2 linked regions of the Homo sapiens genome follow. The protein of the gene in region 2 purifies or fractionates together with the protein of the main gene of each other region. This does not show direct contact. Each region holds a gene or a part of one and is shown on either strand. Other genes may lie near its edges.

What was found. Proteins that work in one complex are often made in the same cells at the same time.
Region 1: the proteins of PLEKHG1 (region 2) and NUP93 purify together in Homo sapiens (affinity purification with mass spectrometry, with the first as the bait; one large-scale study listed by BioGRID). This does not show direct contact.

What each region holds. Positions count from the first base shown.
Region 1 is NC_000016.10:56,845,129-56,847,957, forward strand, and holds part of NUP93 (nuclear pore complex protein Nup93), read left to right. Parts: 3' UTR 1-2,829. UniProt on the Homo sapiens protein: Plays a role in the nuclear pore complex (NPC) assembly and/or maintenance. May anchor nucleoporins, but not NUP153 and TPR, to the NPC. During renal development, regulates podocyte migration and proliferation through SMAD4 signaling.
Region 2 is NC_000006.12:150,598,417-150,602,684, forward strand, and holds the start of PLEKHG1 (pleckstrin homology domain-containing family G member 1), read left to right. Parts: upstream 1-1,468; 5' UTR 1,469-1,579; coding exon of another isoform or gene 1,580-1,601; intron 1,602-4,268.

The DNA.
Region 1 (2,829 bases), on a different chromosome or scaffold from region 2:
TGGTCCAAGACCATCCCCCAAATCATCAGCTCTGATTGCAGGATTCATCAGTTTGCCGTTCTGTTGCAATCCCAGTGGAGATAAAAGCATAGACCTAGAAAAAGCCTTAAGAAGGAAGGTTGCAAGTGCCCCCAGCTTGCACTTGAGGAAGGGGTAAACCTTGCCACTGCACTCCTCTGTAGCTGCTCCACTGTGAGTTGACTGCTCGGCCTTGTACACACCCCTCCTAGAAAGACGTTTAAGCCCCTATTTCCCTTCTCTGGTGGTCAGTTCCTCTGCTCAGACGACCCCCTTCCCCACTCATTAAGGTAATTGGCCAGGCAGGCTCATGGGTCACGTGCTGAGTCTGCAATGTACAGAATCCAGACCACCACATGGCATCAGCACCATGGGTGTTTGCTCCCTGAGCAGTAGTTGTCACCCATCATTTGCTCTGTTTCCCCCACCATCAGTCCCAAAGCCCTAGACTAAACCAGAGAGCAAATTAGGTCGTGTTTGTTCCTGAATGGGCCAACTGGAGCCTTGAGACAGTGGGCAGTGGTCTGCTCTGCTGGTTTGATGGACGGCTCCCTGAGGTAGACTCTTTCCCAGCAGAATGTTAAGATCCCCAAAGGGTCCCCAAAGGTGCCTTTGCTTGTAGGGAGAAGTTTCTGTCTTGTCACAGGGTGTGGTCATCCCCACTGTCTCCCAGTTGTTAAAATAATTGTTACCTTTTCTTTTGGGAAGAAATAATCTGTAGATAATGGAACCAACTGCTGCTTATCGGTAGGATTCCATGTTCCAGGAAGGATGCGGCCTGAGGGTCAGTGGAGCTGTGTTCTGCCTTCCTCCTCTAGTCCCATCTTGTCACCCTGGAGGACTGTCTTCAATTGAGCTTTACTAGAAAGTCTTGAAACATGAGCCCTGCAGAGGCCTTGATTTAGCAAGTTGTGCCCTGCTTATATGTGCTGATTTAAGCTAATCAAATGATTTAATAGTGCTTTTTAAAAAAGAGTACTCCTGGCCGGGTGGGGTGGCTCACACCTGTAATCCTAGCACTTTGGGAGGCCAAGGCAGGTGATCACCTGAGATCAGGAGTTCAAGACCAGCCTGGCCAACATTGTGACACCCCGTCTATACTAAAAATACAAAAATTAGCCGGGCATGGTGGCAGGCACCTGTAATCCCAGCTACACAGGAAGCTGAGACAGAATTGCTTGAACCCGGGAGGCGAAGGTTGCAGTGATCTGAGATCATGCCACTGCACTCCAGCCTGGGTGAAAGAGCGATACTCCGTCTCAAAAAAATAAAGAGTACTCTGGCCGAGTGCAGTGGCTCACGCCTGTAACCCCAGCACTTTGGGAGGCCAAGGCAGGCAGTTCGCTTGAGGTAAGGGGTTTGAGACCAGTCTGGCCAACATGGGGAAACCCCGTTTCTACTAAAAATACAAAAATCAGCTGGGCATGGTGGCAGGCGCCTGTAATCCCAGCTACTCGGGAGGCTGAGGCAGGAGAATCACTTGAACCCAAGAGGCGGAGGTTGCAGTGAGCCGAGCTTATGCCACTGCACTCCAGCCTAGGCGATGGAGTGAGGCTCTGATTCAAAAATAAAAATAAGAGTACTCTGTGGACTTTTCATAAAGTGCAACTTAGTGCTTTGTTTTTCTAATACTAGATTTTACTTGCAGATAGAAATATAACAATGCCACAAATGAGAAGGCTCAAGTTGTTTAAATACATGTTTGCTCCTGGCTTACCTCTTCTTCACTATCCCATGAGAATCGTGGATTTGCCTTTCCTTGCATCCTGCAGTTCTACTTGTCTCAGAGAGAACTGCACACCAGCCCTGCATCCAGGGGATGAGGTTCTTTGACCTGTAGATGGGTCCTAAAATGAGAAGGGAGAGAAGCAGCCAGACCTTGAGCTGCTCTGCTAGGGGAGCTGTGAGTTGGGAGAAAAGTGGTCACTGGTTGGCAGTTAAGGACTTGCTGAGAGAGACATTTGTAGGAGAAAGAAGATAAGTAGGTTCATACCAGAAGGGCCAGGACTCGGATGGAGCAAATCCCAGTTCTTGTCCTACAAGCTGATTGTGCGATTGAGCACAGGCCTCTGGAATTGTGCAGAGATGAGAAACAGGCTGAATTTGCAAGGCCACAACATCAGGTTGTCATGTACCCATCATTACAGCTTATGCCCAGAAGTCCTGACCCTGTGACAGGTTATTATCTTAAAAACTCATCTTCAGCCCACTTTTTCAGAGAACTAACTCTTTCCTTAGATGTTGGGCCAGGATTTCACTATTTACCCAGAGAAACTAAGAGAAAGTGGCACTAGGCGTCTTGTCTTCCAGATGTGAGATTTCGATCTTTCTAATGAAATTGGGGGCACTTTGAGACTGTCAGGGTTTGTTCCTGTCTCAGAATGGCTCATAATAAACTCACTGAAACACTCAAAGGAAAGTACTGACTTGATCTGGATCCTTTTCAGAGGCCTGGAGATTTAATTTCACAGATTCTCTTCTTTTGGCTCAACAACAACAGCAACAAAAAACTCTTTGACTCCCCAACTTCAGAGGGAAAACTGAAGCGAAACTGGTGAGCTCTGCCACGGCAGATGCCTTCCTTTTTCACTCACGAGCTGGGCGGGCTCATCAAAGAGCAGGAAGTGCCCATTTTACACTGGGGCCAGGATGCAGACCCAGCTCCTGTCCTCCGCGAACTTACAGTCTAATTAGAGCCTCTTAAGGACAATTTGGCAGCCACTGTTAACTCTTGATGCATCATTTAAATCCTAGAACAGGCAGCTTTAAAGCAAAGAACTACAGACTTTTCCGCAGTGTCCAGCATTTGCT
Region 2 (4,268 bases):
CTCACAGGGTTGATGGAAACCATTAATGTGGTACTATTTCACAAACATACTGCACACTTCTAACACAAATCACAACATAGAGAGATGGGGTAACAGGCATGATTTTGTGTGAGCTCCAGAAGCTGGGCAGGGTCTTAATTAAGCTCAGTTTCCTGTCTGTGAAAGGCGACTAGCACCTGTCCTGTCAACCTCACAAGGTTATCGCAAGGCCAACTGAAACAATGCTTTGAAGATGGCAAATGTCTGTTTTAGTCCCATTGCAAATCTACCGTGGTAAATGTATTCCAAGCATAACCCAGTCCCATAGTTTTAGGTAATACAAGTCAGTTGTGGAGACTCAAATTATAAAACAGAACATAAACTCCACGTGGTAGAGAACTGTGATGCTGTGTAGCCTTACTGCACAAACCTTGTTTTGTTCCCAGTCTTTATGATAATTTCCATAATCATGTATATGCATAAAAGCAGATAAAAGGCAAAAATCAACAAGAATAGCTAACATTTATTCAGGCTGTAGAGCATGTGCCAGACAGTCTCCTAAGCCCTTCACGCACATTCTCTTATTTAAATCACATACAGCAACTCTATGAGGTAGGCACTATCATCATCATCATCATCATCATCTCCATTTTACAGATGAGGAAACAGACAGAACACAGAGAGGTTAAAGCGTTCTCTCAAGGCCACACAGCTAGCAAGTGGTAAGGCTGAAGGTCTGTTAACAACTAAGAGTGCAATCAAATCCACCACCAAACCTAAGGGGGTCCACAGGCGACCCTGATACGTCCGACTTTGGCGGGAGATTAGTGTTAAGAAATGACTTCACATGCCTTTAACTGTCGCTGCAGGCACCTTTGATTGGAGTCATAACTTTACTGCAGAGCCGGTGCCTTTAAACATCTCTCTGGCTGTCACCGGTTATTCTTTACCTCCGTTTCCACTTTTACTTTCTCTAGGCAAAGGTCGTTTGGTGCTTTAACCGAGGTGATTAGGGTAATGACGCCTGAAGAACACCGGGCTTCCCCCTCTTTTCACTTGATTACCGGCAAAGCTTCTATGTAAAACTAGAATGTTCACTAAAACCATGATTTTGGGTATTATTTTAAAGGACTCACATAGGAAATTATTACGTCCAAAGGAAAGCTAAACCTGAAGAGCTAGGAAAATGAAAAAAAGTGATGTGTCTGCGAAAACAGTAGCAGAATTAAAAAAAAAAAAAACTTTATTCCCCCCGAAGCTGTAATTTGACTGTTCTCTTTGGCAAGGCTCCAGAGACAAGGCCAAGTGCCTAATTTCTCTTTCTCTTCGCCCCCCTCCTCTCCACCTTTTTCACCCTCAGGGCAGAGGGGAGGCGGGACGAGCGATCCACTGCTCCGGCCGCCGAAGCTGGCGTCTGGGCGCGGGGAGGGGCGGGCCGGGGCGCGGCCGAGCAGTGGGGCCGAGCCCGAGGAAGAGGAAGTCGGAGCCCGAGCCTGAGCCCGAGCCCGAGCCCGACGGCGGCTGCAGGGCGCTCCGGCAGCCCGAGCCGGCGCAGCGCAGCCCGCACCCTCCCCGCCCGACCTGCGAGCGCCGCCCGGGCATGCGAAGCCGTCCCTCCCCGGGTAAGCGCCGGTCGGGCCCGGACGCCCTGGGGACTTTTCCAGGGATGGGAGGGGGGACCCGGGGACCTCCGGCGGGAGCCCCACATCCGCAGGTGGGGCCGGGCGGAGCGTGGTACCCGGGCCCCGCCGGCCCCCTGCGCGCCCCTCCGCAGTGGGGACGGAGGGCCTTGGGGGGCGCCGAGCGGTGGGGACAGAGGGCGCCGGGGGCACCGCGCGGTGGGGACGGAGGGCGCTGGGGGGCGCCGCGTCTCGGGGGTCGGAGTCGGGTCGGGGATGCTGCCCGCCGCCGCCCCGCTTGGGGTTCCGCGCCCCCAAGTTCCCGGTGCTCCCGCCCCTCGCCCCAGCGGCTGCAACATCAGCGCGCAGAGGAGTTTCTGCGAGCACCCGGGAGTTGTAGCCACCGCTTCCCCACCCCCGACTCAGCAGGACAGCCCCAGAACGGGACCCCACAGCCAGTCAGCTGGGTCAGCTCCCCAGCAGCGAAGCCGGGAGCCCGAGGACCCGGGGACGCGCGGTGGGGGCGGCGGCCGAGCTGCTGCGGCGCTCAGGGCTTGGGGGCGCCCCCGTTCTGCAGATGCGCTTTTCAGGGGGTGGGGAGTCAAGAGCCTGTGGCTCTTCCGTCACGGGGTAAACGGTAACACCTGGGCGGCCGCGACTCTGCGAGCGTTCTGGCCTCGGCGGGCGGCGGGGAACCGCAGTGATGCCCGAGCTCGCCCCTTTTGTGTCCTCGCGGTGAGCCCCGTTCCGAAGCCGGAAGCTTGGGAACGCTCTAACTGGGAGAACGGCGCTCGGCTGGTCAATTCATTCCGCTCCTCGGAAACAATGAGCTGGATCCTTGACTTGAATGTGCTGGCGGAGCGGGGTTTGTAAGCCGGCGTTTCATCCAGCTCTGGTCCTCAAGGCGCCCTTTGTACCACCCGCAGGTGGCCGAGGCTACTGCACGTATTTTCGAAATCACCGAGTGTGGGTGTTTGGGGCAGGTATCACCCCGCGAGGACCATCTCAGACTGAGAGTTGGTTTAGGAGTTTTGAACAGATTGGATACAGAACTATATTGTGTTTTGTATTTAGACCGGGGGAAAGACTAGAATGTTAACTCTAGGGTCCAGTTTGTCATCTAACAGAATTCCGGGCTTGGGTAGGTCCTGTAATGCGGTACAATAACAACCAGGTGTTAAAACCGGCATCTTCTGGATTCTCAGATTCTGTAGACAGCATACTTCTAAAAAATGTAGAGATTTTGGATTTTGATTAAATTGCTGTTAAAAACATTTCCAAGCCCATCATTTCAGGAGATCAGAAAATTTTCGAACTTTAATTTTGCCCTGTGGGACCCTGGGCAAGATACTTGCCTCTGGTCGTCTTGGCTGCCTCCCTTATAAAGCAGTGCACACGAACCAGATAGCTTCTACGGCCTCCTGCTCATTCCTCATCCCCCTCCCAAACCCCTACCCCCTGTAATTTGGTCTACAATATTTAAGACAGAGAGAAAAGTAACGGGTTGATGTTTGACTCTCTCAGCATTTTGAGTCTGGCTTCCCAATTCCTGACTTGACTTTTTGTCTCATTTGAGGTCCCAATTCTAAGCCACCAAACCACCTGACTAAAGAAACTTTTTTCTTCAGAGTGCTCCCACCTCCCTGGCTTCATCCTCAAATAGGTCATCAGTAGCAGTCCACAGTCAACAGCAATGGCTGCACGACCTTCCCCATCCTTGTGTAGCAGCCCCCCAAGTCCTCTGCTAAAGGGCAAAGCAAAGTGAGAAACAGTTACCTGGCAATCAGATGCCAGATAACTGCCCCGATTCTGCTCGTCCTTGGTGGCATTTTCCTGCTTCCCCTACTCTAAATGGGCACCCTGAATTAGGGGCACCAGCTTCCTTCAATGCCTTTAATATAGGTGACTGTCACCGAATACAGGCTTAAATATTTCAGTGGGGGATTCAGGCTGTAGTTCAAAGAAGTTAAATGATCATTTTTAAAACAATAGGAAGTGGCAACATAATTTTTCAAAACCAAGAATAACCAGTCCTATGTTGTGTTCCCCCTTTGCGGATATGATTTTTCAGTGATTTAATTAAGATCGAATGGTTCATAGTCTGTCCCATAAATATGGGAAATGCTTGAGTAGCACTAAATCTCTTGAGCCCTTCGTCAACCAAAAGCAATTCCTGAAGCTATTATCTTAATGGCGGCCGTTCACTTTTTTGCAGATTTCTTTTCCTCTCCACTCCTTTCATTGCTGGTGGTTGGTCTTTCAAGCAGTTGTCATCTTTTAATCCTCCTGCAGCATGATTAGGTCCCTGGAATATTAAACCCAGAAGGGCTCTTGGATGACCTAGTCCAGCCCTACATCTTAAAGATTTAGGAAGTCTGGTTAAGATCCAGTGATCTAGAATTAGCCTACTTGTGTGATGCTCACATCTACGTCTCTGTAGCTTTGAGACCTTCACTTCTTTAAGGAAATTACTTAGATATGGATTATTTCATAACCAGGAAAAGTAAAAATCATAGTTGGTGTCTCTCGGTTTTCTCACCTTTCCTCATTTTCACACCTTTCCTCCTTTCTTCTCCGCCCTTGTCTCAAGTTATGCCAAGGATTAAATGAAATGATTCGTATCAGTGTTTGGCACATATGGTGTGCTTTGAAGATGATTGTTGTTGATAA